Linked DNA regions of Homo sapiens. Each later gene encodes a partner of the first gene's protein in a complex. Each region holds a gene or a part of one and is shown on either strand. Other genes may lie near its edges. The genes, in order: OSGEP and TPRKB.

Evidence for each region.
Region 2: OSGEP (region 1) and TPRKB share a complex: the UniProt entries of both Homo sapiens proteins name them as parts of the EKC/KEOPS complex.

The regions. Positions count from the first base shown.
Region 1 is NC_000014.9:20,438,936-20,454,743, forward strand, and holds the end of OSGEP (tRNA N6-adenosine threonylcarbamoyltransferase), read right to left. Parts: 5' UTR 15,749-15,808; coding exon 15,634-15,748; intron 13,514-15,633; coding exon 13,394-13,513; intron 13,215-13,393; coding exon 13,039-13,214; intron 10,332-13,038; coding exon 10,236-10,331; intron 10,079-10,235; coding exon 10,029-10,078; intron 9,877-10,028; coding exon 9,798-9,876; intron 9,237-9,797; coding exon 9,171-9,236; intron 9,060-9,170; coding exon 8,969-9,059; intron 8,756-8,968; coding exon 8,680-8,755; intron 8,586-8,679; coding exon 8,487-8,585; intron 8,345-8,486; coding exon 8,305-8,344; 3' UTR 7,466-8,304; downstream 1-7,465. UniProt on the Homo sapiens protein: Component of the EKC/KEOPS complex that is required for the formation of a threonylcarbamoyl group on adenosine at position 37 (t(6)A37) in tRNAs that read codons beginning with adenine.
Region 2 is NC_000002.12:73,728,604-73,745,348, forward strand, and holds TPRKB (EKC/KEOPS complex subunit TPRKB), read right to left. Parts: upstream 8,743-16,745; 5' UTR 8,699-8,742; intron 8,659-8,698; exon of another isoform or gene 8,613-8,658; intron 8,154-8,612; exon of another isoform or gene 8,014-8,153; intron 5,989-8,013; 5' UTR 5,967-5,988; coding exon 5,826-5,966; intron 4,102-5,825; exon of another isoform or gene 4,098-4,101; coding exon of another isoform or gene 3,981-4,097; intron 3,683-3,980; coding exon 3,560-3,682; intron 2,134-3,559; coding exon 1,957-2,133; intron 1,427-1,956; coding exon 1,340-1,426; 3' UTR 1,270-1,339; downstream 1-1,269. UniProt on the Homo sapiens protein: Component of the EKC/KEOPS complex that is required for the formation of a threonylcarbamoyl group on adenosine at position 37 (t(6)A37) in tRNAs that read codons beginning with adenine.

The DNA.
Region 1 (15,808 bases):
GGGGTTTTCTTCCCATGAAGAAATGTGTATCCTCAATCTCATTTCTAGGCTCCTGTATGATTCAACGTGCTTCCGAAAATAGGACTGACATGGGTGTGCAGAATGGGAGCCGCCTGGGCGCAAAGTGCCAGTATGGCTGGGATTTCAGCAGTTGTCGAGAGCAAGGGTCCTGCCTCTGTGGGCTCTCTAATCACTATGAGGTGAGTGAACCAGAGCGGAAGTGTAGAGAGAGAAACCTTGCCCATTGCCTGGCATAGCATAGATGTTTAAGTTGATTAATTTGGGGCAAAACCTTCAAAGATGCAGATAAATTTTAATAAGTCTGGGAAAACTAGGTGAAAATACGGGTGGAATGCATTACTTTGGAAAGGCATTGATTTTTGCCTCTGTCTGCCCTTTTCCTCAGACCATGAACATGGTGTCTGCCTTTAGCCCTCTGATGTCTGCTGGAATCTTGAGAGCCATTCTGTTCTGTACCCTTTCCTGCTTTGTTTCAGCCCCTAATATCTTCCAGGCTAGTTGAGATCTTAGCAAGAGGCTTGCAAGAGAAAGGAAAGAATGTTAGTAGACACGGTCATCCCAAGTGTATAATTTTTGAGGAGGGGCAAAAGACGGCTCAGTTCTCAGCAACTGGGAGTTAGAAGGTAACTTTGGGAGATGGAGATGACTGTGGCTGGCTAATGTTTAAAGAGATAATCCAAGCCCACATAGCAACATTCAAAGTCTGCCTGTAAATCAAGGGAAAGTATGGGGAAGGTGTCACTCTTTTTTTTTTTTTGAGACACAGTCTCACTTTGTCACCCAGGCTGGAGTGCAATGGCATGGTCTCGGCTCACTGCAACCTCCGCCTCCCAGGTTCAAGTGATTCTCTCGCCTCAGCCTCCCAAGTACAGGCACGTGCCACCACATCCAGTTAATTTTTATATTTTTAGTAGAGATGGGGTTTCACTATGTTGGCCAGGTTGTTCTCGAACTCCTGACCTTGTGATTCACCCGCCTTAGCCTTCCAAAGTGCTGGGATTACAGGCGTGAGCCCCCAGGCCTGGCCCGGTGTCACTCATCTATCTACCTCCCCACTCTCAGTTTTTCCCATCCCTCATTCCCAGGGATCTTACCACCCCCTACTCCCTCTACTCCTATCCTTTCTGCCTCTGACCCCTAAACTCCCTTGACTTCTGTCTATGCTTCCCACTCTCCTGCCTCTTTAGAGGGAGAGGGCTCTCATTCTCCTACTTCCTGGGACCCTCCCCTATTGATCACCAAGACCTCTTGCAGCAGCTGTGCCAGGATAAACCATACACAATCACTGGCTTTTTTGGGGGGAAAGGCCATGGCAAGAACCACGAGCCTCTGTGGGGCTATCTGCTCACCTTCCTCACTGCTGTAGGTTTCATCCTTATCGGTGACTACTCCCCACCCCACCCTCCACACTGGGCTCTATTAATCACCATTCCTCTCAGGCCCTTCCCAGCCCTACCTCTGGCTTCTAGGAGCTGATCCTAAAACCTCTTTTCTATCTCTCTTTTCCTGAAAGTGGACGAAAAATGTCTCCTAACCTTGCACTGCTAGGGGTGGTATGTGTGTGGGGGTGGAGTGAGGAGTAAGAAGGGAATAGAGAGAATGGAGAAAACCATAAAATGATGTCCTGGACTTCTAGACCTGCATCTTATGACACTAGTGTGGAGACTCACTCCTGACCTTTCATCTCCCCCAAAGCCGAGCTGAGTATCATTGCCCCCACCATCGCCAACTTCCTCCTCTGTTCCTGTGCCCTCAACTTTGGCTGTCTCTACGCCTCCCTTACCTGGTTGTCTGGTTAGTGTGGGCAGGTGTTCAGGTAAGCTCTAGGGCTGGAAAGACCTGGGGAGTTGGGAGAGCATCCTTGCGGTACATGAGTGGGTGGTGCTGGGGCTAAGACAAGGGCTTACATTTGCTGTCCCCTGCAGGCTGGCGCCTTTCCTTCTGCAGGTAAAGTCCCTGGGTCTCTCTCCTGGGCTCTCTGCTCTGCCTGCTCATCACATTCCTCCTCACATGGCGGGCAACACTGATTACTGTGTTGCTTACCCTTCTGCTGTTATATGATCTACAAAACCTGGTGAGTGAGTAGGCGGGTGTGCAGGGAGTCAGGAAGTGAGTTACAACAGGAGGCTGGCCCCTAGAAGAAGCCCAGAACTACGAACAGTGTTTCCTCTTCTACCTCACCATTGATGCACCACCCCTTTCTCTGCACAGTTGTGAACTGGGGCTCTTCAGCCCAGGCAGACACCTACCAAATGGCGCTGTCCTACTCAGTGAGCCTCACCAATGTGTAAGATCACATTAAGAACTTCCAGTCAGGAAGTCTGTAGATGAGAGATTGAAAACGGTGGCCTATGGACGGAATGTTGCCTGGAAATGAGTTTTTTGATTGCACAGCATTTACAATTTTTAAAATAAACTACCAACGTTTAAGATCCAGGCATCTGCTAATCCTGGGCCTCCAACCCACATGACACAGTTAGCTGGGGCTGAGTAGCTCCTGTCCCATGGGACAAGGCAGGTGCTCTCCAGTTTGCCACAGTTCCCACTTGGTCCACTTTATTCTTTAATACTACATGACTGGTTCTTGCAAACTTTTGGCTTTTTTGGGAAAGGCCATGGCAAGAACCATGAACCTCTGCAGGGTTATCTGCTCAGACACAGAAGGAAACTAGCTTCCTGAAATCTGGGCGGGGTAGTGGAGAAAAAGGAAGCCTTCTTGTCACCTCTCATCCAACATACCATATCCCCTTCTTTCCTCATTGCTTCTCCTTTCAGGTCTCATGTTTGAACCAACTGAAGTCCAATGTGCTGGTCTTGGGATATAAGCAAAATTGGGAGAAAGGGCCTGTATCTGCCATGGAGTACTACATAGGCATTCTAGTGCGAATGTGAGATAGAGAAGGGTAAGATGGACATAGAAATGGTCAGGAACTAGAAAGAAGAGGAAATATAATCGTGGTGAAGCCCTTGTTCCCAACAGCTGCCCAGCAGTGCCTGTGTCCCCAGGAAAGAGACCCCCACCCCTTCATCTCTTCCTCCTATATCTCTTTTTCTCTCCTCTCCATAAAGTGATGACTTTGACTACAACTATGGCATAGGCCTCATAAGGATGCCAGGAGGGTTAAGCCCGGCTACTCAACACCAAGCTCAAGGTGAGTGAAAAGAGGTGGGCCTAAGAGAAGGATGTGGTGTGGGAGGTATAGAAATTGGCTCTCAAAGACAGTCTGGGAGGCAAATGAACTCATCTAGAGTTACCAAGACCTAAGACTGAATAGAATTGGGTACCAGGATGCGAGAGAAATGAATTTTGCTTGAGCTTTAGTTCTCCTGAAATTTTCAGGGTGGGGGAAAACTTTAAAGGTATCTTCTAAATTCAGGTGGGAGAAATTTGGATCAAAAGATACAACATAGCAGGGTAAGCTGGAGTGTGGTCAGGAAGGGCTATGGCCCAATTCTAGAGAAGGGTTTCTGGCACTACCCCAATTCTAATAATATTACACATCTTATCAGTTAAATTTTGGGCATCCTTAGCAAAAAGATAACATTATTTTGTGTTATACCCCCACTTTTCCCAGTACACCCAGCATATTTGGATGTCATAGGGATGGATACTTAGCAGGCAGGAGACCAATTCTAAAACATGTCCTGTTTTTAGGAATAACAGAGTTGTAGAGCGGGTTAGAGAAGCAGACACCAAGGAAAATAAAAAGGAAATGCGGTTAGTCAATGCGGAGAGAAGCCACATGACGTTTCTCTAGGATAGCAATAATTCTCATAGGGGAGGAGAGGTATTATACTGAATTAGGAGCAACTGCTCAGCTGGAAAGGAGTTTGTCTCATTCTTTTCTTCTCTTTTCTCGGGCAGCATCCTTATTCCAGCAGCCTCAATGTTCCAATCCAAGCAAGGCCGGAGGGCAGTGGACGTGTACTGGCTCGGTGATGATGAAGGTAGGGACTCCATGGCTCCCCAGGAAGTCCCAAGTTCTCCAAGTTCCAGGGAGAATAGGAGAGGGAAGATAGTGACATATAAACCAGAAAGGACTAGAAAATGAACTCTGCATTTACCAAGTACCCAATACTCTCCTCCCACCTCAGAGGACAACTGTGGTGTTTAAAGGCCAACAGAAAAGCCCGTGTTGCTGGAGCAGCGCAAACAAGGAATTGAGTAGCAGATCAAAGTGGTAGGCAGGGAAGGGCAGAGTGGATCACAGAGGGTCTCACAGGCCTTTAAATAGACTGGCCAGCCGCCCTGTCCGGGAGGGAGGTGGGGGGCGCCTCTGCCTGGCCGCCCCTTCTGGGAAGTGAGGAGCCCCTCTGCCCGGCCGCCACCCGGTCTGGGAGGTGTACCCAACAGCTCATTGAGAACGGGCCATGATGACGATGGCGGTTTTGTCAAATAGAAAAGTGGGAAATGTGGGGAAAAGATAGAGAAATCGGATTGTTGCTGTGTCTGTGTAGAAAGAAGTAGACATGGGAGACTCCATTTTGTTCTGTACTAAGAAAAATTCTTCTGCCTTGGGATGCTGTTAATCTATAACCTTACCCCCAACCCCGTGCTCTCTGAAACATGTGCTGTGTCCACTCAGGGTTAAATGGATTAAGGGCGGTGCAAGATGTGTTTTGTTAAACAGATGCTTGAAGGCAGCATGCTGGTTAAGAGTCATCACCACTCCCTAATCTCAAGTACCCAGGGGCACAAACACTGCGGAAGGCGGCAGGGCCCTCTGCCTAGGAAAACCAGAGACCTTTGTTCACATGTTTATCTGCTGACCTTCCCTCCACTATTGTCCTATGACCCTGCCAAATCCCCCTCTCCGAGAAACACCCAAGAATGATCAATAAATACTAAAAAAAAATAAATAAAAAGACTCTGGTTTTTCTTTTGATGTAAGAAAGCACTGAAGGTTTTGAGCAGAAGAGTAACATGATCTGGCTTCCACGCTAACACTATTCACTCTGGCTGCTATGTGGAGAATTGACTCTAAGTTGGCAATGGGGAAAGGAGAAGGAGCAGCTACTGCAATAATCTTGAAGACACATAATTCTGGCTTGATCTACAGTGGCAGCAGTGGAAGTGAGGAGAAATGGAATTCTGGATGTATTTTGAAGGTAGAGCCAAGAGGATTTGATTAATTGGAGAAGAAAGAAAACTGACAAAGATACTTTGACATGAACAACTAGAATGGAGTTGTCGTTGACAGAAATAAGAAAGACTACAGGACTAAGTTGGGGAAAGAATAAGTGCAATTTTGAATATGTTAAATTTGAGACGCCTATTAAGCATCCAAGTGGAGGTGCCAATGAGCAGCTAGGTATTTGGGATAGAAGTCCAGGTTGGAACTATAACTGGGAGTAACCCCCATCAAAATGATTTTAATGTATACAACTAGATGAAGTCACTACAGGTGTATGTGTAAAGAGAGCAGTCTGAGGACTAAACTCTGTGGAGATGAGGAGAAACTAGCAAAGGAGATTAAGAAAGGGCAGTCAGTAAGCTAGGAGGCAGACCAGAGAATGCATCCTAAAGCCAAGTAAGGAAACTTTTCAAAGAGGGAGTGTCAAATGCTGCTGATAGCTTCTGAGGATGAAGAATACGCCATTAGATTTAGCTATGTGCAGGTCATCAGTGACTGTGATAAGAATAGTTTTGGTGGAGATTTAATAGGGAACTGGTGGAGAGAAATTGAAGACAAGTCTTTCTAAGTTTTGCTGTAAAGTGGAACAGAAAAATGGGAAGCAGCTGGAAGGGCAAATGGGGACAAGCAGGCATTATTTGTAAAATGAGGAAAACAGTGGCATATTTGTGGACGGCAGGATTCAGGAGAGAAGGAAATACTGACTCTCCAGGAAAAGAGGGAGAATTATCCCTTTTTTTGAGAAAGAGTCTTGCTCTGTCACTCAGGCTGGCATGCAGTGGCACAATCTTGGCTCACTGCAACCTCCGCCTCCTGGGTTCAAGCGATTCTCGTGCCCAAGTAGTTGGGATTACAGGCATGCAACATCATGCCAGCTGATTTTTTGTATTTTTAGTAGAGGGGTTTCACCATTGCTGGTCAGGCTGGTCTTGAACTCCTGGCCTCAAGTGATCCACCCGCCTTGGCCTCCCAGTGCTGGGATTACAGGGGTGAGCCACTGCAACCAGCCCTGACTTCTAATCAGTAAAATATCCTCCTATCGACGGTGACAATCCAGTGTCCTCTGAGAAGCAAAATCAGCTCTGGTTGAGAACCACTGGTTTATGGTAACAGGAGGAAGGCAGAGTACATGGGTACAGATACTGGAAGATGGTTAGTTTCAGGGGCAAAAGCTTGTAAATGTATACTGATTGTTTCTATTTTCTTACTGAAATAGGAACTAAGGTAAGAGTCAGAATAGGGGGAGATGTTAAGAGATTTGAGGGGTCAGAAGGTATGAAACAGTCACTAGAAAAGAGGGCAAGTGAAAGGACTAGAGAGATGGCATATTTCTGGGTGGCATAAAGGACCCATTTTAGTGTCATGGTCGTAAGTTTGAAGTAAGATCAGTCAGCATGGCTATTTTTTACTAGCCCTTTCAGCTGCATGGGTCTAAAGTAGGTGATGAGTTGAATATGACAAAAGCAAAAGAGGGGAAGGGAAATGAGGTGGATTATGGGAATTTAGCTGAAGGAGGGAAATAAAAATACGTGGGGGATAAAATCTGCAGAAAGGAAGTATGATCAATGGACCGTAGGTCCTGGTGAAGGGATGAACTGTTGGATTTAGCATACTAAAGAAAATGAACTGGAAGAACAGGAGGTGGTGGTAGTCGAGAGTGGGACGTCTGAAACTGAGATGTGGAGGATCTGCAGCTCCAGAACATGACCAAGGAAATAAGTGGCTGAAGCGGGTGTTAGTATGATCTACCTGAATACTGAAATAAGATTTATGACAAACGTGGTGTTCGTATGGTAGTTTCTTTCAAAGCAGAAGGGTACTAGGGATGAGGGATAATGGTCTGGAAACAGTATGAGGACACGTGCACCACCTCCAGGCCCAGTGGGACACTGGGTGTGGAAGGGAAAATGCCACCACTACTGAGGTGGTAGGAGAAGCAGAGTCCTCATAAGAAACCAAGTCTGAAGAGCATAAATGTGAAGGGAACGTTCAGAGAAGAGGTTGAGGACACAGAGAATTTGACAAATGACTGGCCATCAGTTCCAGAGGGCACAGTGGAAGAGCTTCTAGAGTTGGAAAAGGTAGGTAGATGGAGACAAAACAGAGTGGAGATACATGGTTATTAAGTGTAAAAGATGAGATGACTCAGTAGTTTAGGACTAATTGTGATGATTGATATCAACATCAATAAGATTAAGGGTATGAGATTCGTTCTGTTGTTTGTGGTACGGAGGGATGTGCATCTGCGGGCATTCCTCAAGCCTGCCGATGGATGTGCATGTAGGAGAAAGTATACGGAGTAGAGGCAGTTTTAGAGTTACAAGTTAGACCAATCTCCAGGCTGTTTGTTTGTTTGTTTTTAAGAGACAAGGTTTTGTTCTGTCACTCAGGCTGGAATGCAGTGGCTCAATCACAGCTCACTGCAACCTCAAACTCCTGGGCTCAAGCTATCTTCCCGCCTCAGCCTCCCTTGGAGCTGGGACTACAGATGTGCGCCACCATGCCCAGATAATTTTTACATTTTTCAAATAGATGGTGTCTTGCTATTTGCCCAGGCTGGGCTCAAACTCCTGGGCTCAAGGGATCCTCCTGACTTGGCCTCCCACAGCACTGGGATAACAGGTGTGAGCCTCCAGGCTATTTTGAGAGAAGTCTTGCACACCTACTTCAAAGAATTTAAATGAGAGAATGAATGTAAAGCAGTTAGCACGGGACCCGATGCTATAATAATAGTTATGATACTACTATTGTTGCCAGGCACAATGGCATCCTTACTCAGGAGGCTGAGGTGGTAAGACTGCTTGAGCCCAGTTCGAGACCAGCCTGGGAAACACAGCAAGATTCCGTTTCTTAAAAAAAAAAAAAAAGATACCTCATTCTTGGTTCCACAGCAGCAAGCTCCAACAAGAATTTATCCAGCACCAAATCTACATTGGTCCTGAACAACACAATCCAATCACCAACATACAAAACCAAAAAACCAAAAATATTTTATTGCTGAGTCATCCTGGGGTTCCATAAAGGACCCCAAGCCTTGCTTGGAGTCTATAGCTTTGCTAGGACTCCCATGACATCAGGATAGAGATTGAGGCACGGGGTCCTTTGGGTTCCGATTAAGGAACTATCTACTCTGATTCTGTTGATCTTATTAGTCCCTCCAGGTCACCTCTACTTCATCTGTCCGATACCTGTGGAAAAACAGAAGAAACATGGTGGAGAGCGAGCCCTTAACATCCTTCATTCTTCTCTGCCCTCATGTTCCTGGACTCTTCCCTGCTGTTTTTGTCTATGTCCCAATAATCTACCCTCACCAAGAGGTGAATCACTCACCTCTGTGTAACCCCAGAATCACTGAGTGGGGTCCTGTGTCCAGCCCGAAACATCTCCCAGCCAGCCTGGGCTATCATCGCTCCATTGTCAATACAGAATCTGGGATGCAAGAGAGATGAAAATTGGGATCTAAGGGTGGAAAATCACTATAACAGGAGAAGTAAAAAAGAAACCAAAGGGAAAGTGTCTTTACCTCTCATCTGTAGCAAAAAGCCGGGCTCCACGTTCCTGGCACATTGTTGCCATCATCTCCTGTAGCCTCACATTACCTACAAAGAGGCAGGGAACAGGATTAGCTTAGTTTTAGCCATCTCTTCATGGTCCAGCAGAACACGTCATGTGCACTCACTTAGAACAATGACATAGGGGATTAGGGGCAAGGATTGGGAAGCCTACTCCAAACGCTTAATGATTTAGAGTACCAGGAGGAAGACGCATAGTGTTAAGAATAGGAAAGAGGAACACTTTTCAATAATACATACACCCCACTCCTCCCACAATGAGGGCCTCCTGGGAGCCACAATGTGCCATGGCTCGCTCTGTGATCTCTACCAGCATTGCAAACACAGTTTCCTGTCAGGGACAGATAAGGAGAAAATATTAGAGGGGCATCCCAGATTAGTTCTGCTCTACAATATAAAACCTTCAGCCCCAACTTTCTGTCCCAGTTTTTTACTGCATTACCTGCAGGGAGAAACACAGATCCTCAGGAGTACACTCGCCTGTGGCCAGCATCCGATGGGCTACATCCTACAATTAAAGGGAAAAACAAAAGAATCAACAAATCATGGTTTTGGGATTACACGAGAGCAAAAATTAATGCATTCGGAGGGTCATCATGTTTCACCACAATTCAAGTTACCAGCACATCCTGTACCACATTCCCTTCACTGGCATCATGGCATAGAATGAGCAGCTTTCATTTAAGATGCAATCATTACTTTTTGAATACTTGTCCTGACATCTCTCACCCCTTACTTATCCTGCTTAATTTTTCACCTGTACTCATCATCATCTGGCACTTCATTATTTTCCTCTTTCTTATCTCCCCCGCCCCCCATTTAGAATCTAAGCTCCATGTAGACAGGGATTTTTGTTTTGCTCCATGCTGCATCTCTACTATCTAGAACAGCATGTGGCACACAGAGATATTCAATGAATACCTTCTAAATGAATTTACCCAGCACATGATATGGACCAGTACTGTGCTACATGAATATACTGAGCTATACGAAATATAATCGTAAGTAAAACAGATATGCTTCATTTAAAAAGCATGAAAGTGCCCGTCTCATCACCTCTCACACTCACCTCAATGAAAGACAGGATCCCTGAGAATGAGACGTCCATCCCCTTTACAGTGTATGGCAGCTCAACTAGCTTCTTGCCTCTATGTGGGAATAAGCGTACGAGGCACTAAGCCTACAGTCAGCTGGCTTCTCACCCTCCAAAGCCCGTCCCAAATTTTGTTAATATATACCGTATATGGGGAAATCCCTGAAGCCCCAGCAGCCAGCCTGCTTCCACCTTATGTCCCCTTACCGCTTTGCCATCTGTTCAATGTTGTATCCTGGACTTGGGTCGTTAGAAATCTAGCAGAAGAAAAAAATAAGGAAGGAGGGAATGGAAGAGGATGAAATCAGATATGCAGGAAGCATAAGAAGCTCATTTACTATTTCCTCCCTCCACCTCCATGGCTTCCCAAAAATTCACCCACATTTTATGTTCTCTGCAGCCCCACTGGCTTACCTTCAGCACTCGAGCAAAACGATCCAGACAATTACCCACTGCAATATCGATGGTTTCCCCAAAGATACGGTAACGATGTTCCGAGTATGCAATCACCTAAGGGTGATGAGGAAGTCCATGAAACCCCAAGTCTGTAAAGAGGATTATTTGGCTTTGGGAGAAAAACATAGCAGAGGATCAACATGACCACCAGGGCTTCCAATAAGAAGTGGAAGAAAGGTGTTTCCCAAATGGTGAATGGGTAGTTTTTACAGCTCTGATTTGAGAAGAAATCTGTATACCCTGAGGATTCCAGGAACAGATTCCTAGACAGTGTAGGTTCAGGCAGAAATAAATTGTCATTTCAAATACATTGGTTTTCCGGCTTAGAAGTTCCTAATATATCCCTTAAATGCAGTCTTGATAGTAGGTAACCGGCTTTTCTGCTTGGAGGCAGAGAACATGAATCCTTCTAAATTATGACACAGTGGCAGTGGTAATTTTTTTTTGAGACAGGGTCTCGCTCTGTCTCCCAGGCTGGAGTGGAGTGGTGTGATCATAGCTCACTGTAGCCTCCACCTCCTAGGCTCAAAGGATCCTCCCACCTCAGCTTCCTGAGTAGCTGGGCTACCATGTGTGGCTTATTTTTATATTTTTGTAGAGATGGGGGTCTCACTATGTTGCCCAGCCTGGTCTCAAACTCCTGGTCTCAAGCAATCTACCTGCCTCAGCCTCTCAAAGTGCTGGGATTATAGGTGTGAACCACCGTATGCAGCTGGGCAGTGGTATTTAGAACCAAGAAGCAGAGCTGAAGAACTCAAAAATCTCATATGGAGTCAGACTAATGGCCCAGCCAAGTCAGCAATGGCAATTCACTTAAGGCCATTTTTCTTTTCTTTTTTTTTTTTTTCTGAGACAGAGTCTTGTTCTGTCGCCTAGGCTGGAGTGCAATGGCGTGATCTCAGCTCACTGCAACCTCTGCCTCCCAGGTTCAAGCAATTCTCCTGCCTCAGCCTCCCAAGCAGCTGGAATTACAGGCACCCACCACCACTTTTTTGTATTAAGGCCGTTCTTCATATGTGACCAACTTTTAGCACAGAGAATATCTGTCCCTTACTGACACATATTCTGCAGACTTATAACACCGAGGGCTTCCTACGAACCTTAAGAAGTCCCTTTCCCTTCCCAGTGCTGTTAGGGATTTCTTCCCTTTCTGATACAGATCTTAATCTGCTGTCAAAAAGACAGTAACAAAGGCGAAGGAAAAATCCTGCCTTTCTGCTTCTGCTATCCACTCCTCTCCACCTAATCACCCTCCCTGTTTCTTACACCTAAGCAAACATTAAAAGAGAAGAGGAAGACAAAACCGTCACTGCTCCTTTCATCAACTCTTGTAGCCTCCATTATACTTTCCACAACCCAAGTCTCTGACCTTGTATGTCATCCTTCAGGCCTCAACCAACTACTTGCCCTCTACCTGCTGAAGTTTCTGCATCATTTTCATGGGAAACATGTGCCTCATCTTCTCGACACAACCCTTTCATGAGCTGGGGACAATGCTGAACTATTTCTAATGATAATCAAGTGTTCTGTTGGAAAAGAATCCAATCCCAACCTTAAAAAGGTCATATAAGGTAACCCAAACAACTTTAGCTTCACCTATAAATTTAAAATACCTTCTGGCCGGGCATGGTGGCTCACGCCTGTAATCCCAGCACTTAGGGAGGCCGAGGCAGGTGGATCACCTGAGGTCAGGAGTTCAAGACCAGCCTGACCAACAGGGTGAAATCCCGTCTCTACTAAAAACACAAAAAATTAGCCAGGTATGGTGGCGGGTGCCTGTAATCCCAGCTACTCGGGAGTAGAGAAGAATAGTTTGGACCCGGGAGGCAGAGGTTGCAATGAGCCAAGGTTGCATCATTGCACTCCAACCTGGACAATAAGAGCGAAACTCCATCTCAAATAAATAAATAAATAAATAAGATAAAATAAAATACCTTCTATAATTTACAAAGTATTTTTTAAAGTTATTTATATTTCTAAACTCTTAGAATAACAAAGTCTACATAATCATTCCCAGTAATATAAAAACAAAACATGTACTTGCCCCAAAATAATAAATCAGGTAGTGTCCTTTAGTTGTTTTTTTTTGTTTTTTGTTTGTTTGTTTGTTTGAGACGGAGTTTTGCTCTTGTTGCCCAGGCTGGAATGCAATGGTGCGATCTCGGTTCACCGCAACTTCCGCCTCCTGGGTTCAAGTGATTCTCCTGCCCAGCCTCCGGAGTTGCTAGGATTACAGGCACCTGCCACCACATCAAATTAATTTTTGTTATTTTTAGTACAGATGGGGTTTTGCCACGTTGGCCAGGCTGGGCTCAAACTCCTGACCTCAGATGATCCACCCGCCTCGACCTCCCAAAGTGCTGGAATTACAGGCATGAGTTGCCATACCCAGCAACTGTTAGTTTCAATTGCTAAGATTTATAGAAAAAATAAGCTTCAAAATAATGCAAGAGCTTTCAGATATTCATTATTTTGAAGATTTCAATCCTTTTCAATCCCATTCATTCCTTTCCTGAAGTAGAAATTCCTAATCTTTATAATCAGATATAAAGTCTGATAATGATAAGCCATCTAATGTTCTGATCATGCTGCCAAAATTTGCAATGTTACAAACTCTGTTGGGGGTTTTCTGGTCTACAGTATTTTAGGTTCAGATAAGTCCATCTTTGTTCCTGACATTCCCATGACTCAGATAGAACAAAGAAAATACTGGTTCAGTGCCTCAGAAATTGAGATGGAGTGGGTAGAGCCCTCTAAATACCTGCGTATTTCCTCCACTCACATACAACACGGTTGGGCTGGTGGCTCCAGTGATGAGGCGGCCCATCTCAATGTGGCCTATACAGTGGTTCACACCCACCAATGGCTTATTCCACAGTTGGGCCACAGTACGGGCCACAACAGCCACAGAAACCAGTGGGGCACCCATGCCAGGGCCTAGGGAGATAGAAATGGAAGTTATAATCCTAGAGATTGGAAAAAAACAATAGTGGGGGACATAAGGGATGTGAGGTGGGGTAGGGGTAGTGATGGTGGCAGAGGTAAGGTGTTGGCTATTTTGACCTAGCCAGGTTGCAGGTATATTCCTCCATCGTTGACCACTCTCCCAGCCATACCCTTGGTGTATGCAATGCAGTCGATATCCTGGGAGGTTAATCCAGACTCTGTTAGTGCCTCCTGCAGCAGGTCTAGGATAACAGCTCGGTGATGCCTGGCTGTATCACCTGGAAGGAATCCTAGAAAATGAACATAGGTCAGAGATCACAGGGATTTTCTGTAGCAAAGGTAGGTAGGAAGTTAAAGAAAGCAACAGGAGTTTTAGTGATGTAGTAAGAGTCCTTTCACTTTCCCCAAGCATCCTATCTTCCACATTTTCACATCTACTCTTTCCGGCTTCTATATAGGCTATTCAACTTTCAGAAATGCTCTTCTTCTTACCCTACTCAGCCTTCAGGTCTCAATGCAAGTAGTATCTACCTCATACCCTTTCGTGATCTTTTTTTTTTTTTTTTCTTTTGAGACAGTCTCAGCTCTGTCACCCAGGCTGGAGTGCAGTGGCACGATCTCGGCTCACTGCAACCTCCACCTCCTGAGTTCAAGAGATTCTTCTGCCTCAGCCTCCTGAGTAGCTGGGACTACAGGCGACACCACCACGCTCAGCTAACTTTTGTATTTTTAGTAGAGACGGGGTTTCACCATATTGGCCAGGCTGGTCTCGAACTCCTGACCTCGTGATCCGTCTGCCTCGGCCTCCCAAAGTGCTGGGATTACAGGCCTGAGCCACCGTGCCTGGCCTTTGGTGATCTTCTTTCTCTGTGACCCTACAGAACTCTATGCATGATGATGTCATTTATTTAACATAACAATTACAGCATTATAATTTTCTGTGGTTTGCTCAGCTTAATCATGAATATCTCAAAGCATTGAGTATTTTATTTATCTTTGTATTCCCAGTGCCCAAGTGCCCAGAGGAGTGAATGCTAAACATACATATATATTTCTAGTGAGTATCTGTCACAACATCACCTGTTCAGGGAGGCTTTTCAGATACATGCAAGTCAGCTGCCCTCTCCTATGTATGCAAGTGTTTGAGGGGAGAGTAGCAAGATATAATAGCTTATTTAAAATATCAATTAAAAGTTGTAATGTGTTTTGTACTTTTTTTTTTTTTGAGACAGAGTTTCACTCTTGATGCCCAGGCTGGAGTGCAATGGCACCATCTCGGCTCACTGCAACCTCTGTCTCCCGGGTTCACGCAATTCTCCTGCCTCAGCCTCCCAAGTAGCTGGGTTTACAGGCATGCGCCACCACGCCCAGTTAATTTTTTGTATTTTTTAGTGGAAACATGGTTTCTCCATGTTGGTCAGGCTGGTCTCGAACCCCGACCTCAGGTGATCTGCCTGCCTTGGCCTCCCAAAGTGCTGGGATTACAGGCGTGAGCCACCACGCCCAGCCGTGTTTGGTACTTTCATCTAATCTTCAAGACCTAATGATACAGGTATTATTCCCATTTTAAAAACAAAGACCAGGCCCGAGCGGTGGCTCATGCCTGTAATTTCCACACTTTGGGAGGCTGGGGTGGGCGGATCATCTGAGGTCAGGAGTTCGAGACCAGCTTGGCCTGGTGGAAACCCCGACTCTACTAAAAATACAAAATTTAGCTGGATGTGGTGGCGCACACCTATAGTCCTAGCTACTTGGGAGGCTGGGGTAGAAGAATCGCTTGAACCTGGAAGGCAGAGATTGCAGTGAGCCGAGATCGTGCCACTGCATTCCAGCCTGGGCGACAGAGCAAGACTCTGTCTCAAAAAAATAAAATAAAATAAAAAATAAAGACCAAATGTCCAAAACAAAAATATTTAATATGAATATAGCAAAGCCAGCCAGTTCTGTCTGACATGTAAGCCGGGAGTCTTTCCACTCTCATCTCTCTACTCATCCTAGAATATTTCAAAAAATAATTTTTTTTTAAAAAGGGAGTGTATATTCAGGGCAACTGGAATCTATACTCCTGCTAAGCGTTTTTTAAACAGAATATTTCGAGTCCATCTCTATTATACTGTTTATCATGCTGTAGTATAAACATCTATTTATATGTCTGACTCCACAGCAGTATAACATCTATTTCTGAATACTTAGCACATAAAATGCGCTCAGTAAAAGGTAAATGAACTCATCAGATCCACGTCCAAGTGCCTGTAACTCTTCTAGTCATCAGCCTTGTGACGTTAATAATGTCACATAATTTCAATGAGACTCGGATCGAAAGCTGCACCTCACTAGTATTTAGGAAGATGGAAGGCTGATTCTGTGCGGGGAAGTGCGCGGAAAACTCTTAAGTCCCCTACTCACCAACCTGTGCCAGGAGGCGTGACGTAAGTCCGCCGCGGGTTCGCCAGCACCTTGCCATCCCGCACCACGCCCACGCCAATCTTATTGGCGCTGCCTTCAAAACCCAGCACCGCCGGCATGGCGGAGGCTGGGAGAAAACGCCGACAGGACTCCTGGCAATGTCAGGAGCTGTGGAGGTC
Region 2 (16,745 bases), on another chromosome or scaffold:
GGGCCACGGACCTGCCTCAGCAGCTGGGGTCTGACCTCTTGGGGTTGTGTTCTGACTCCCCTTCCCCCATGGCTCTTTGCCCTCTGGAAGCCAAGGGGCAATGGCAGGTTCACAGTGGCACTGCAAGGGTACAGTTGTTGGGGGTTCTTGGGAGCAGGGGCACCAGTTCTGCTGTGGCCCTGGTTGCCTCCCCTTGCCCAGGCTCCATGTGCACCCTCAGAGTCCCCCTGGCACAACCTTTCTTCTTCTCACGAGGAACACCCCCACTTCCACTTGGGCCTCTGCCAGGAAGAAGGGTGGGAGCTCTGCCGAGGTGTCCCTCTGAGTGACCACCCTCAGCTGGAGCCGCCAGGCCTCTGCACAGTAGCTGCCCCTGGGCCTTGTGTGTAAAATGGGGGTAATAACAGTATCTACCTCATAAGGTTGCTGCAAGAACTAAATGAGTTCCTAGAAGTGAAAGACACTTAGAACCAGGATCCAGAGGCTTGCGAAGGGTGAGCTGGAGTAGCCATGGTAAGTATGGAGAGGGAGGTGAACTGAGGATATAAAATCACCAAGGCAAAAAATTTAAAAACAGAAACAATAACCAGCTGGGCTCAGTGGCTCATGCCTGTAATTCCAGCGCTTTGGGAGGCGCAGCAGAAGCATCACTTGAGTCCAGGATTTTGAGACCAATCTGGGCAACATAGTGAGACCACATCTCTACAAAAAAAAAAAAAAAAATCACTAAGGCAAGAACCTAGTACACTGTAGGCATTCCATAAGTGTTTGCAATTTTTATTCTAATTATATAAAAATAAAATATATTTGAATAGAAACAGAACTCTAGAAGGCAATAACAAGTAATAGTAACTGATTATCTTTTAAAATACAACGAGGTAGGACTACAAGTGGTTTTTTTGTTTTTTTTTTTTTTGGTTTTTTTTTTTGAGACGGAGTCTCGCTCAGCTGCCCAGGCTGGAGTGCTATGGCACGATCTCAGCTCACTGCAACCTGTGCCTCCCAGGTTCATGCGATTCTCCTGTCTCAGCCTCCCGAATAGCTGGGATTACAGGCACCTGCCATCATGCCCAGCTAATTTTTGTATTTTAGTAGAGATGGGGTTTCACCATGTTAGCCAGGCTGGTCTTGAACTCCTGACCTCAGGTGATCCACCTGCCTTGGCCTCCCAAATTGCTGGGATTTCAGGCGTGAGCCACCGTGCCTGGCCTTTTTTTTTTTTTTTTAATACCATTCTGTGATTTAAACTTTTCTATAATGCACAATTAGTTTTATAGTCAGGAAAGGAAAATCAATGTTTTCTTTAATGCTGAGAATTTTTGTTAATATTTCTGACATTTCATAAAACATCTTTTGTTGACATTCTACAAATGATAGCATCCAATAATGTCCCAATACTTTCTTCTTGTGAAGAGAGTTTATATATCTGTAAAAATGAAAGACAAATTATGACTTGCTGATATCGTCATTCACTACTAATTGTCATTATACAAACATGTGTAAGTGAAATTATTCCTCATTCAATTATTGGGTTCATGGTATAACAAACAACAAATGTGATTAAAATATTCAAAGTAGAGGGCAATTCATTACTTGTATCCCCTTTAAATTGCTGCTATGGGAGTAACTCTCAAGAACATAAAAACCAAATTTCTATCCATTTTAAAAGCATACTAAATTTATTTTACATTTTAAATATACTATGTAAGTTTGATATTTAAAGGTATTCTCTTTCTTAATGTGGAGAATGGTTATGTCAGCTGAGTTTGTAATTATATTTTACATAAACCATCACACCTCCCAGTTCTTTGTATCTGTAATTTTTAAGTAATTTTTAAAATTAGATTAACTTTCTCAAAAGTTCAAAAAACAAGGAGCTCTGGTGATCAATAGGCAAACGGCATCAGCATTATTGCTCATCTATCACACTCTTTCTAAAAATATGGACTGGCAAACCTTTTTGACTTCTGTAATATTCATTATTTCAGGAAGATTTTTCAGAGAAACCTGATGACCTTCTACTTGAGATATTAGGTATTCTTGATTTATTTGTTTTTCTCCCTCTTCAATGTAAACAATTAGAATTGAAGTGTCATTTGCTGAGATACCAAATTTTTTCAAAGCCTCTGAAATCTAAGAGAAAAAAAATGAAAAAAAAAACACAAGATCATTAACCATTGTTTCCTACGTCTGAAACATTTCCTGATCTGCCTTCTTCCTTGGTCAGGCTCTTATTTTTCATGTCCTAACAGTTCTCACTGCCTACTTTTTCACTTTAATGATTCCTTTCCAACATCCATTGGCACTTCCTCAAAAGCACTCCCTGCTTAAAGGTACGCCTTGTTCCTATGGAATCAAGCCCAGCCTCTTGGCGCTGCACAAAAACACCTCCTCCCTCTGGTGCCAAGTGGCCCTCCAGCCAGGCGCTTCTGCCTTCTGGCCAGTCCAGCCTGCCTGGGGATCCAGTCACATTTCATGCCCTTCTGCCTGTGCTCAAGCTTTGTCCTCTGCTCGCATGTCCCTTCTCCTCATGGCTTGGCTGCTGAACACATGCTTCAGGGTCCACAGTTCTGATGCCACTCCCCACCACACCCTCCTCCCTCCAAAATGAATGGCTTCATTGCTGTACCCCTAGATTTGAATTCATTTTCCCATTATATCATTTATCTTAGGGCATTTTAACTTGTCTTGTTTATCTGCCTCTCCTCAGGAACATATTTGCCTCTTCTGCCCCTAGAACTGTAAATGGAACGGGGAAAAAGTTCAACAGATGTTTACTGAATTCAAGAGTTTTCTGAATTATGTCTAATGATCTCAAGGAAACCATAATTAGTAAATTTTATTCCAGGTACTGGGAATCTCTATTACCATGCTGAGATAACTGCATTTTATAAACTTGTCAATCATCTGTATTTTAACCTATGCTACAGGTTTCCTGTAGATGACATTAGTACCTGGTTGTTATTAACAGCAGCAGTAATACTAAAACTTCATCAGCAAAATTGCAGTCATTTTTTTCATGTGCTACATGTGTGATGTCTTTAGCTTGATAACTTTCATTGAAAAAGCATTACTATAAGTATTTCAAACCACAAACTCTACCTATGTACTGGGTGTGTGAGTGAGGCTGTGTTAAGGACTGTTATAGGTACAAGCAAGTTCCTGGTATATGAAAAAGACATGGATCCCACCCTCAAGGAGTTTACGGGAAGAGAGAATGATATGCAGGCTAGCACACAAAATATCCACGCCTAATGTTTTATCATTTAGATTTCTGTCAGCTTCTCAAGCAAAAATACTTGAGGGGTCTTCCTGACCCTATATGGTAAGAACAGATAAAATTAACCTCGCTTAATTTAGCTAAATTTTTGTTTACTCATATGTAAACTGTCTTAGTAAGAGGCAGGGTTAAACCTCAACTCTCTGTCCAGAGCTCTCTTCACTATTATTTGGGTTTATTACTAACCACTGGCTTGCAGGAATTTAGCCTCCAACCCAACACTGAGGAACACATATGTTATTATGACACGGTCAACAGAAATAGGAAAGTGCACATTACATTGTTATTTGGGGAAAGGTTGAAAATAATTTCAGTAGATAGAGTTCTTGTCTTCATTTTTCCCAGTTTGTAGAGGTGAACTGCTTTGTTTGCTGCCACAAGTATCTGAAATGGATCAACAATCTACCAAAGCAAGGAAAAAGAATTAATTACACATGGAGAATCTGCAGTGCCTGAAAACACATGGTAACTCATGGTTAACTCCAGTGTCAAGCTGTTTTACTTCATCACAATTCTTACGGTCTGTATTTTCAAAACTATTATCCCGGCTGGGCACGGTGGCTCACACCTGTAATCCTAGCACTTTGGGAGGCCAAGGTGGGTAGATCACCTGACGTCAGGGTTCAAGACCAGCCTGGCCAACACGGCGAAACCCTCTCTACTAAAAATACAAAAATTAGTCAGGCGTGGTGGCACGCACCTGTAATCCCAGCAACTCAGGAGGCTGAGGCAGGACAATTGCTTGAACCCGGGAGGCAGAGGTTGCCGTGAGCCAAGATCGCGCCATTGCACTCCAGCCTGGGCAACAAGAGTGAAACTGTCTCAAAAAAAAAAAAAACAAAAAACAACTATTATCCCAAGGGCCTGGGTAGTCAGGAAATCACAGAATTTTAAAGCTGCAAGGAACTTATGCAAATAGTAAAATTTTTTTAAATAACATTAATTGAGGGCTAATATTATGGGCATGATCATATTGCAAACATTTTACTTGTAATATTTTCTTTAATCCTCAAAACTACCCTATGAAATTGACACTATTATTAGTAGTAGTAGCAGTAGTAGTAGTATGTAATTGATGAGGAAATTGAGGCAAAGAATGTCTGGGTTTGAATCCCATCTCTGTCACCTATCACCTAGGAAACTTATGCAAGTTCATTAGCATTTTATTTGTTAGAGACCGATGAAACAGTATTCACTCCATAGGCTGTTGTGAAGATTAAGCAAGTTAGTATACGTAAAGCACTTGGAACAATGCTAGGAATGCAGTAAGCACTATATAAAGGTTGGTTATGTCTTGTTCAAAGGCCTAAGTAGTAGGTCTGGGATTAATTCCCGGTAACATGATCGCACTGCGTGTGCCCTGTTTTTTTGTTTTTTTTTTTTTTTGGAGACAGACAGAGTCTCTCGCTCCATTGCCCAGGCTGGAATGCAGTGGCTCAATCTCAATTCACTGTAACCTCCGCCTCCCAGGTTCAAATGATTCTTGTGCCTCAGCCTCCCGAGTAGCTGGGACTACCAGCACACACCACCACACCCAGCTACTTTTTGTATTTTTAGTAGAGACACGGTTTCACTATGTAGGCCAGGCTGGTCTCAAACTCCGGGCCTCAAGCAATCCACCCACCTTGGCCTCTGTGTGTACTCTTAACCACTACACTATTCCTCCTCTACAGACTGTCTTGTTAGGAACCCCCATTTTAAAGATGAGAAGCTGGAGATCCAGGCATTTCCCATATTAGACCCAGACCACAACCTTTCCTATTTCCTAGGGCAGGACCTGGCACTTCTGCCTCTATTCACTGTTATAGTCAAAGTTGGCTGCATCTGACTTGGACAAGAATTTTTTCCCTAACCGTGACAGATTTTTAGGCTACCCTATAACATCACAAATATTAATGTATACTTAAATGCCCTGTATGGCTCATTCATTCTTTTTTTTTTTTTTTTTTTTTGAGGCGGATTCTTGGTCTGTTGCCCAGGCTGGAGTGCAGTGGCACAATCTCGGCTCACTGCAACCTCTGCCTCCCAGGCTCAAGCGATTCTCCTGCCTCAGTCTCCTGAGTACAGGTGCCCACCACCATGCTCAGCTAATTTTTGTATTTTTAGTAGAGACAGGGTTTCACCATATTGGCCAGGCTGGTCTCAAACTCCTGACCTCATGATCTGCCTGCCTCGGCCTCCCAAAGGGCTGGGATTACAGGCGTGAGCTACCATGCCTGGCCATTTTTTTTTTCCAGACAGAGTTTTGCTCGTCGCCCAGGCTGGAGTGCAATGGCGCAATCTTGGCTCACTGCAACCTCTGCCTCCAGGGTTCAAATGATTTTCCTGCCTCAGCCTCCCGAGTAGCTGGGATTATAGGCGCCCGCCACCACGCCCAGCTAATTTTTGTATTTTTAGTTGAGACAGGGTTTCACCATGTTGGCCAGGCTGGTCTTCAACTCCTGACCTCAGATGATCCACCCGCCTCGGCCTCCTAAAGTGCTGGCATTACAGGCGTGAGCCACCGCACCCAGCAGGCTCATTCATTCTTAAAATTTATATTTACCACTGTAGGATTTATCAGTGATCCATCGATGGTGCCTTCCATGGCCTTTCTTCTCAAGTCTCCCGCATTTTTTACATCTTTAAATAACAGAAGGGTTACCCTGCATTCGGGAAATAGGTCCAGCTGATGTGTTAACTGCATTTCACAGATAAGCAGGATTCTACTGCACACAAAATGAAAAGACCAAAAGATTTCATTTAAAAGTTAACATCAGAACTCATTTCTTAATAAATATTCAAAAACTTTGAAAGTAACTTGATAAAAGTGTTAAACTAGAAAAATCCATCGCCAAAGCCCATTTGGCATCCTCATGAGATGTTGTCTTCCTAACCCTTCTGAGTTGTTCTGTTGTCATCCCCAGGGAAACGCCAAGGGGCCCAGCTGGTTGCTGTTTGTTCAGATGAGGCAGGCTCAGGTGCATGGTTGAAGGGCTGCTTCCCCAGCAGACAAGTAGGAGCAGAATGTCAGGAATTTTTTAAACCAGAGGTTGCTTACGGTATTAATGAAGTCTTACTCTATCTTAGTCTTTTTAACTTCCTGATCTCATCATTTTATTTATATTTTAGGAAGGCCTAGACATAAATATTAAGGAAGAAAATAATTTTAAAGAATAAAGTAGGCTGGGTGCAGTGGCTCATGCCTGTAATCTCAGCACTCTGGGAGGCCGAGGCGAGCAGATCACCTGAGGTTGGGAGTTCGAGACCAGCCTGACCAACATGGAGAAACCCCGTCTCTACTAAAAATGCCAAAAAAATTAGCCAGGCATGGTGGCGCATGCCTGTAATCCCAGCTACTCAGGAGGCTGAGGCAGAAGAATCGCTTGAACCTGGGAGGCAGAGGTTGCAGTGAGCCGAGATCATACCATTGCACCCCAGCCTGGGCAACAAGAGTGAAACTCCGTCTCAAAAAAAAAAAAGAATAGGGGGAAGGGATAGCATTAGGAGATATACCTAATGTAAACGATGAGTTAATGGGTGCAGCATACAAACATGGCACATGTATACAGATGTAACAAACCTGCACGTTGTGCACATGTACCCTAGAACTTAAAGTATAAAAATAAAAAAAAAGGATAAAGTATCCCACTTGACCCAAAGATATTCATTCCACGCATGGAAATTAAGCAGAGAGGGTACAATTATTAAATAATCAATGTCGCTCCTTTCTTGGACATAAGCTTAACAAGAAAAGGATAGGTTATTATATATAAAGACATAAAAGAAACATAAAAGACAACTTGAATAACCAGAAAGACATGACCATATCTTTGAATGGAAAAACTATGTATTGCAAAAATTTCTTTAAAACAATTTCTATCAAATTCTTAATAAAATATTTTGGTGGGGCAATTTGAGACTCATTTTATCCTTTTACCTGGCAGATTATATTTCTAGAACTCTTTCTGATGGAAGTCATTAGGAATCCAATAATTATATAAGATGTTCCTCTCATTATTTTAACAGTAAAAAGTTGCAAATAACCTATCTAGCTAATGATGGGATTAGTTGTTATTTAACAACCATTAAAACATGTGGTCTTGACGGTGTGTAAAAACGGCAATAAATAACATTAAGTAAGTAAAAACATCTGAATGGAAAACAAAACACAAACTGGCCAAAATGTGGGTTTTTTAAAAGGCTTTTAAACAAATATTAAAAAGAAAATACACCAAAAAGTTAATGTTATCTCTTATTTAGAATTAATTTGACTTTTTCTGTTACAAACAGAAAAAAATATATTTGTGAACGATATCCTGGCACACAGTTCAATCATTAGTCATGCTAAGGTGGAAAAAATGGATACAGAAAGACATAATCAGTAGGATCCCAATTATATAAAAAGATACACATATTTTTTTAAAATACATGAAAGAAACACTAAAATATGACCATCTTGGGTAGTGAGGTTATGAGGTGATTTTTATTGTCCTTTATATAAAAGAAAATATTTTGTTATGTATGTTCTGAATTTTCTACAGTAAGCACACAAAACATGAGTACACATAATAAGAAAGGAAAAAAACGTGCTTTTTAACACTGAGTGGGGGGAAGAACCCTTAGAAAACTTCAAAATAGTTTGTTCTTGTTTAGCGTAATTTACTCACTCAGGTCAGAAACTTGGAATCATCGTTGAGACCCAACCTGTCACTCAAATCCTATATCTAATCCGTAAAGTCCTGAATTTTCACCTGCTAAATATACTTTTGATTCGTCCACTTCTCTCCCATACGCTAGGTCACATCGCTCATCTACAGCAGTAGCCTTCTGAGTGGTTTCTCACAATTCCTGCCCTCCTATAATCCAGTCGTCACCAGCAGTTACAGTGATCCTTTCAAAATGTACATCAGATCTTGTCATTCTGCTGCTCTTATGATAAAGCCCCAACTTTGTGTCACGGTGTTCCACACTCTACGATCTGGTCCCTGCCTCTCCTCTTCTGCTACCGCCGCAATGGCCTTCTCTAAGCTCAAGTCACCAACCTTTCTCCCCGATTCTGCCCTATCGGACAGGTAGTTCCCTCTCTCCTTTCATCTCCGCCTGACGCACTCCTCCCTCCCTTCAACTCCATTTGGAGTCCATTTACTACAGCGCCCAGAACCCCGGCACTACGGCTCTTTTTAGTCTGAGGACTAGCTCCTTTTTGGGCCCAATCACAACTCTGAAGAATCCTGCGCCTATCCGCTGCATGTCTCCTCACTAAACTATTTCTTGAGGGGACAGCCTGACTCTATCATTCTCGTGCTGCATTCCCAGGGGCTGGCCTCGTTGCCGCTTGAGAAATACCAACCGCAGCCGTTGTCCCAAAGACACTACTAAAACTGCCCGGACCCTCCCGCTCCCGAGCCTGCCCGTTAGAGCGCAAGGAAAACTCACCATCCGGCCCCCAGTGCGTCTCGGAAGAGCTCCCGCTCCGAAACAAAGCTCACAACTTCCGGAAGCGATGGCCAATCCCCGTCTTCTTCGAGCCAGTTTCCGGATAGGCCGGCTCGGGGTGGCCATCTGTTTCCGGGTCCTGGTAGGAGGGGTGCTTCCGCCCATGGTCCCGCCCATTCTTCCGCCTCCCCAACCTGGGTCCCGTCAACGGACGCGAAGGAGAACAGGGGCTGTATATCACTTCCGGCGAAGGAAATGGAAGAATCTATGGGCTGGGACCGGAAGCTGGGGTCTGGTTTTGAGTCTCGGCTTTGTCTTAACCTGTGTTGGGCGTTGCACCGGGCGACCTCAGTTTCTTCCTGTACAAGGAAAAGTACTGACCAAAATGAGTTCTACATACATTTCCGCTGCTGGAGATTTCTTTGGTTTTTGAGACAGAGTCTTGCTCTGTTACTCAGGCTGGAGTGCTGTGGTGCAATCTCGGCTCACTGCAACCTCCGCGTCCCGGTTCAAGCCATTCTCCTGCCTCAGCCTCCCGAGCAGCTGGGACTACAGGCACCCGCCACCACGCCCCGCTAATTTTTTGTATTTTTAGTAGAGACGGGGTTTCACCGTGTTAGCTAGGATGGTCTGGATCACCTGACCTCGTGATCCACCCGCCTTGGCCTCCCAAGGAGCTGGGATTAGTTCTTTTTCTGGGCCATGTCTCCTGTGACACTTTGGACTTTTGAGTTTAATGCTGGAACAAGTTAAAATTTTGGTAGGTGATTGGGAAGGCATGATTATGTTTTGCAATGTCAGAAGGACATGAGATTTGGGGGTCCAGGGATGGATTGAATATATGTCCCTGCCAAATCTCATGTTGAATTGTCCCCATTTTTGGAGGTGGGACCTGATGGGAGGTGTTTGGGTCATGGAAGTGGATCTCTCATGGCTTGGTGTCTTTGCAATAGTGAGTGAGTGCCAGGAAGATGTGGTTATTTAGAAGTGTGTGGCACCCTCCAACACAGTCTCTTGGTCCAGTTCTCACCATGTGATGTGCCTGCTCTCTCTTCTCCTTCTGCCAATAGTAAAAGCTCCCTGGGGCCTCCTCAGAGGCCAAACAGATGGTGGTACTATGCTTCCTGTACAGCCTGCAGAAACATGAGCCAATTTAACCTCGTTTCTATATAAATTACCCAGTCTCAGGTATTTCTTTGTGGCAATGCAACAGCCTAATTGCAGGGGGCAGGGGCAGGGGGAAGAGGTGGGGAGGCATGACACACTGGGCTAAAACATGAAGAACATTCGGCCAGGTGCGGTGGCTCACGCCTGTAATCCCAACACTTTGGGAGGCCGAGGCAGGCAGATCACCTGAAGTCGGGAGTTCGAGACCAGCTTGACCAACGTGGAGAAACCCCGTCTCTACTAAAAAATAAAAAATTAGCCAGGCATGGTGGCTCATGCCTGTAATGCCAGCTACTCAAGAGACTGAGGCAGGAGAATCACGTGATCTGGGGAGGCAGAGGTTGCCATGAGCTGAGATCGCGCCATTGCACTCCAGCCTGGGCAACAAGAGTGAAACTCCCTCTCAAAAAAAAATAAATAAATAAAAATTAAAATTAAAAAAAATATATATATATATATATACATATATATATGAAGGACATTCTATTTCTGGGAGACACTGGAACAGGGCCCTGGCTGGTCTGGTTAGTCTCTCTCTATCACAGGATGCTACATTCCCAGCACATTCTACAGTTATCCTAGAGAACCACAAGTGAGAAAGGAGAGAGAACTAAATTGGTCCAAGGCCACCTGGAGAACTGTCCTGCAGTCTATGCCCTTAACCCAGATTATACCCTTTAGCAAAGCTAGTCCGTTTCATATGCCCACCAACCTCCTAGTATCTGGAGGCGGAAGTTTGTCTTATCAGATCGATGTAACACCTTCACAGACACAATGTCAGTACAACATTGTTGAGCCATAGCCAGAATACATTTTACTAGGCCCAGGAGGACTACATCACAAACAGGTTGATCAGGTCTGTCTGGAGCATCAACCTAGTCCAGGATCCAGTGATCCAGGTAAGAACATAATAGGTCAAAGGTGCCAGCCCACCAAGATCTTATTAGTTGTCATGATGTTTTGCCACCTTAGGCCAATTAAGTCTACCTCCCTCCCATGTGGCAGATGTTAGATCCTCACTCAGTAAGCCAGGGCTCAGGTTCTGTTGATATTCACTGTGCCACTATAATACTGGTAGAGTTTACTACTGGCAGGACGAGAAGGTTGCTGTAGCCTGTGACATAATGGGGTCTGGGATGACAGATCCAGCACTTTCCTATGGTAGCCACAGCTTGGGAGAGCCTAACAAACGCGTTATGCTTCTAGGCCTCTGCAGTCACGTCCTTGTGGAAAAAGCAGACTGACAGGTTAGTGCCCTGCCCCTTACACTTCCTGCATCCTCGGGTATTCCCTACCTATGTGATAGAGGTTGAGCTGAGTGTAGTGTCCCAGTCTGACTGCTGCAGTCCCGAGAGTACCCATTCCGCTTGTTGCATGACCCAGGCCTTTTGGCTTCAGTCGTCCAGTCCGGGAAGGTTTGTCTTGTACAAACTCGACATGTCTGATAAGGTTACCTACCTGAATGGAAGGATCAGGTGTTCCTGGTGCCACTAAGCCTAGCACCCTGATACTCCTTGGTCCTGTCCTGTATCCCTGTGGATTTCATAGAAGAGAGGCACCCGGGGGACGTATCACCTCTAGATCAGAGTCAGAGGGGCCTGTCGGGTGCTCTGGCAGCTTGAACCACCGGCCACCTACAGGATGTGCACTCTAAATGGAAAAAGAAAAGACAATGGTTGGGAACACTGAGATTGGAATTTCACAGGTGCAGCCTCATCAGGCAGTCACCTGGTCCACCTCTATCCACATCAAGCTCAGCGTTTTTCAAGATGTGTGCAGTGCTGTGTTTCCCTTGATTGGAGAACAGTGCTTAGTGTCCACACTGCCCTAGTCAGGTTGAGGTGCCACCCCACTAACAGGCTGTCCTGATGTCCTTTATTCAGTTGCTTTGTGAGTTGACTGGTCCATCATTCAATGGCTCCATTGGCCTGTGGATGACAGAGTGCATGGAAAACCCACTGTATTGCATGAGTGTGCCCACTGTCATGTTGCTTGGGCAGTGAGGATTTTCCTTGGTCAGAGTGAAGTCCCATGGGGTATCCAAAAACATAAGTCCTCTCAAGGGCAGCTGTGGTAGTCAGAGCATCCACATGAGTGGCATATAGAGTCCCTTCCAACAGCAAGCTGTTGCCATAGCCCTTGTCCCCACACATGGAATCTTTTAATAGTCCAATCACTGCTGCCATTCCCCTGACCAGATGGCTAGGCTGTTGGCAATGGCCCATGAGTCAGTAAAAATGTGGCAAGATATGGTGGTAGGTGGGAGGGGATGTGCCCCACTGTTATGGCTCAAATCCTTAGCTGTTAGGGGTCATAGCCCCTCTGGTGGCAGTGACATTCTGTGCCACAAGCCACCAAAATGTCAATGCCTATAAAGCACTCAGTGGTGGGAACCATGGTCACTGACACCTGAAATGGCCCAAAGGCCTCCACCCACAAGCAGATAAGCACCACAAGCAGATAAACACTATGTGTCACCGAGTTCATCCCCAAACTTCCTGGTGTCACCAGCTTAATTTTTCCCCTAAAGGAACCTGGAAATTCTGTCATGTGGCCTTCAGTATCCAAGAACTCGAAAGAAATCAGAATTTCCATCTTTCCCCATTTTATTTATTTATTTTTTTTTTGAGACAGGATCTCTCTCCATTGTCCATGTTGGAGTGCAGCCTCAACCTCCCAGGTTCAGACAATCCTCCAGCCTCAGCCTCCCACATAGCTGGGATTACAGAAGCACACCACCACACCTAATTATTTTTAAATTTTCTGTAGAGACGAGGTCTCACTTTGTTGCTTTGGCTGGTCTCTAAGTCTTGGGCTCAAGGGATCCTCCTGCCTTGGCCCCACAAAGTACTGGAATTATAGGTATGAGCCACTGCACCTGGCCCCATTTTATCTTAATAGGAGTATAGAGCCATTGGCCTCTGGTGGGGATCCAGAGACCTTGGGCCCCATTCCTACCCGTGCCATACAGCCCAAGACATTTGGGTTTGCAATGTCCCTTTATCAAATATATTCATCAACCAGGATGCATGTGACTTCCTTGGCCTTTCTCCATGTCTAAGACTGTGGTCCTTTAGACTTGAGTCTCCCTTTCTGTGACGGGCCACGTTGTGCATGTGGGTTCCTCTCAGATGCTTCAGGGACCATGTGAGTACCTCATCCCTCTTCTTTCTCTTAAGTGCCTTAGGGTATGTTTGGGTCCCCAATCATCAGCCCTGGAAATGAGCAATCACATAAGTGGCTAACAACCAAGGGATCCTGTGTGGCATTTCAGCTCCACCTTACTTTCTCTCTGCTTCCACCCATTCAGCCAGCTCAGTCACATCCACAGGGTGTGTTTGCACGTGACCTAATGTCTCACGTATCACCCCTCCTTTCCCATAAAATGTCCAGTTGCAAGTCCAGCCTCTGCACCCACAGGTTGACATCACCACCTCCTTTCACCAGGAAAACATGGTTCTGTTAGACTGAACCCTGTTTGTTGTGTCAATTTTGTGAAGCAGGCTCATTGTGCACTGGTTATCAACTTGCCTGAGTCCAATGAGATGGTAAGATGGAATGCCCACACACAAGTTACATGAAGTGGGTTTATTACTTACAGATTGGCCCTGAGGCACAACAGAAGCCCGGAATTCATTGTGAGCCAATCTCCCAAGGCTCAAGAAAGCTACCGAGGGTGGATGGATTCTCACAAGTGGGGCATGTGTCCCACTTGCACTGCAGCTGAGGGACACTAGAAAGCATCCCACACTGGATTTAATACCCTGGGGACCACATGACACGCTGGGCAAAAGTGTTGATGGACATCTTGTTTCTCAGAGGCAGACAGGAACAGAGAGAGCCTGTGAGCTGTTCTTGTCAGTCCCTCTTTATCGCAGGATGTTGCATTCCCAGCACATTCTACAGTTATTGTTGAGAACACACGTGAGAAAGAGGGAAGAACTGGGCGAGTCTAAGGTGACCTGGAGAATTGTCCTGCAGCTTGTTCTTGAATGTTCATATCAACTTTACTCATAATAGCCAAAAACTGGAAATAACCAATGCCCAACAATACATTGATAAACACATTGTGGCAAATTCATACAGTGAGATACCACTCAGTAATGAACAGGAATGAACTGCAGATACTTCCAACAATACTTGCAACATGGATGAGTCTTTAGAATGTGCTCAGCAAAATGACAATCTAAAATTAATTACTAGGCTGGGAACGGTGGCTCAAGCCTGTAATCCCAGCACTTTGGGAGGCTGAGGCAGGAAGATCACCTGAGGTCAGGAGTTCGAGACCAGCCTGTCCAACATGGTGAAACCCTGTCTCTACCAAAAAGTACAAAAATTAGCCGGGTGTGGTAGCAAGCATCGGTAATCCCAGCTACTCGGGAGGCTGAGACAGGAGAATCGCTTCAACCTGGGAGGCAGAGGTTGCAGTGAGCCAAGATTGTGCCACTGCACTCCAGCCTTGGCGACAGAGGAAGATTCTGTCTCAAAAATAAATAAATAAAATAAAATAAATTACCATATGATTTCATTTCTACAAAATGCTAGAGATTACAGATTTATTATGGAGTGACTGAAAGCAAATCAGTGGTTGCTTGGGATAGGGAAGTGGGAGACACTGACTGGAAAGGACCCAAAGGGAATCTTTAGGGTGAAGCCAATGTTCTATATCTTGATGTGGTGTCAGTTACAAGGAAGTATGAATTTGTTACAATTCATCAAATTAGGTATACTTTAGAAGAGTATATTATATATAATATATATTTAATATATTTTAAAAAATATATATATATAATTTTTTTTTTTCTGAAACAGAGTCTTGCTTTATCACCCAGGCTGGAGTGCGGTGGCACGATCTTGGCTCACTGCAACCTCCGCCTCCCAGGTTCAAGCGATTTTCCTGCCTCAGCCTCCCGAGTAGCTGGGATTACAGGTGCGCCACCACGCCAGGCTAATTTTTGTATTTTTAGTAGAGATGGGGCTTCACCATGCTGGCAGGCTGGTCTCGAACTCCTGACCTTGTGATCCGCCCATCTTGGCCTCCCAAAGTGCTGGGATTACAGGCATGAGCCACCATGCCCAGCCTAGAAGAGCATATTTTATAAACTACAAATTATGCCTCAATAAAGTTGATTCGAAAACAGACATAAAAATTGTTGTCTCATATCAAGCAGAGTCCCATGGAATAAAAAAATTGTCTTGGCCGGGCATGGTGGCTCATGCCTGTAATCCCAGCACTTTGGGAGGCCCAGGCAGGTGGATCACCTGAGGTCAGGAGTTCAAGATCAGCCTGGCTAACATGGTGAAACCCCATCTCTACTAAAAATACAAAATTAGCTGGGCATGGTGGCGCACGCCTGTAATCCCAGCTACTCGGGAGGCTAAGGCAGGAGAATCGCTTGAAACCAGCAGGCAGAGGTTGCAGTGAGCCAGAATTGCACCCTGCACCCCAGCCTGGGTGACAGAGTAAGACTCCATCTCCAAAAAAAAAAAAAAAAAAGTTGTCTCAGTTCATAGCAGCTTGTTTCTAACTATTAAAAGCTGGAAACAACCCACAACCCAAATGTTCGAGTGAATGGATAAACAAAGTGTCACACATCCATACAATGACTGCAACTCAGCAATAAAAAGAAGTCAGCTATTGCTATATACAGCAACATGGATGAATCTCAAAATAATTATGCCAAATCAAAGAAGCCAGACATAAAAAGAGTGCATACTATATGATTCCGTTTATGTAAAACTACTCTATGGTGACAGCAGATCAGTGGTCGCTTGAGTAGGGGTTCTAGGATGCAAAGGGAGGATTACAAAGGAGTGTGGGGGAACTGTGGAGTAATAGATGTGTTCTACCTTGATTATGGTAATGGCTTCATGGATGTGTATATGTCATGTGAATCTAATTGTATGCTTATAAAAATATACAGCATATTGCATGTCAATTATCTCTCTAACGCTGTTTAAGAAACATGAGACACTACATCTTTTTGTTGGAACAGCTAAAATTAGAAAAAACTAACAACACTAAGTATTGGTGAGGATGTGAGCAACTGGAGCTCTCATAGCTTATTCACGGGGATGCTGTGTAATACAGACATTTTGCAAAAGTTTGGCAGTTCCTTATAAAATTAAATATACACTTACCCCACAACAGCAATCCCAGTACAAGGGAAATAAAAACAATTCACCCAAAAATCTCTATGCAAATGTTTATGGCAGCTTTGTTCAAAATTCGAATATTGGTAAATAACCCAAATATCCTTCAACTAGTAGATGGAAAACAAATTGTGGTATATCCACAGCATACTCAGCAACAAAAGGGAATGAACTGTTGATCTACTCAGCAACATGGAGGAAGCTCAAAAGCATTATGCTAAATGAAAGAAGCCACATTTGAAAGGCTACATACTCTGTTATTCCATTTATACAACATTCTAGAAAAAGCAAAACTATAGGGACAGAAAATAGGTCAGCATTTGCCAAAGTCTGGGGTTGGTGAGAATGGATTGCTACAAAATGCCATGAGGGAATTTTAGGGGATGATGGAATGGTTGTATATTTTGATTGTGGTGGTGGTGGTGATGGTTATAAAACTACGCATTTGTCAAAATTTGTAGAACTGTACACTAAAAGAGGTGAATTTTACTATTTGACTATTTTTTAAGTCATCTCAGAGGTAAAAATGATCCCTTATGACTTGCAAGGGTTATGTACCATAAAATTAGTTCAAAAGATCTAATTTGATAAGGTGTTAGATGAGAGCTTTCAAAACAATATCAACTTTATTCTTCTCTGCAATATATAGACTTGTATAAATATGCATAACTGTTACCATGTGTTAAAATGAATCTAACCTTGGAAATGTTATCTGAACAAATGGGTC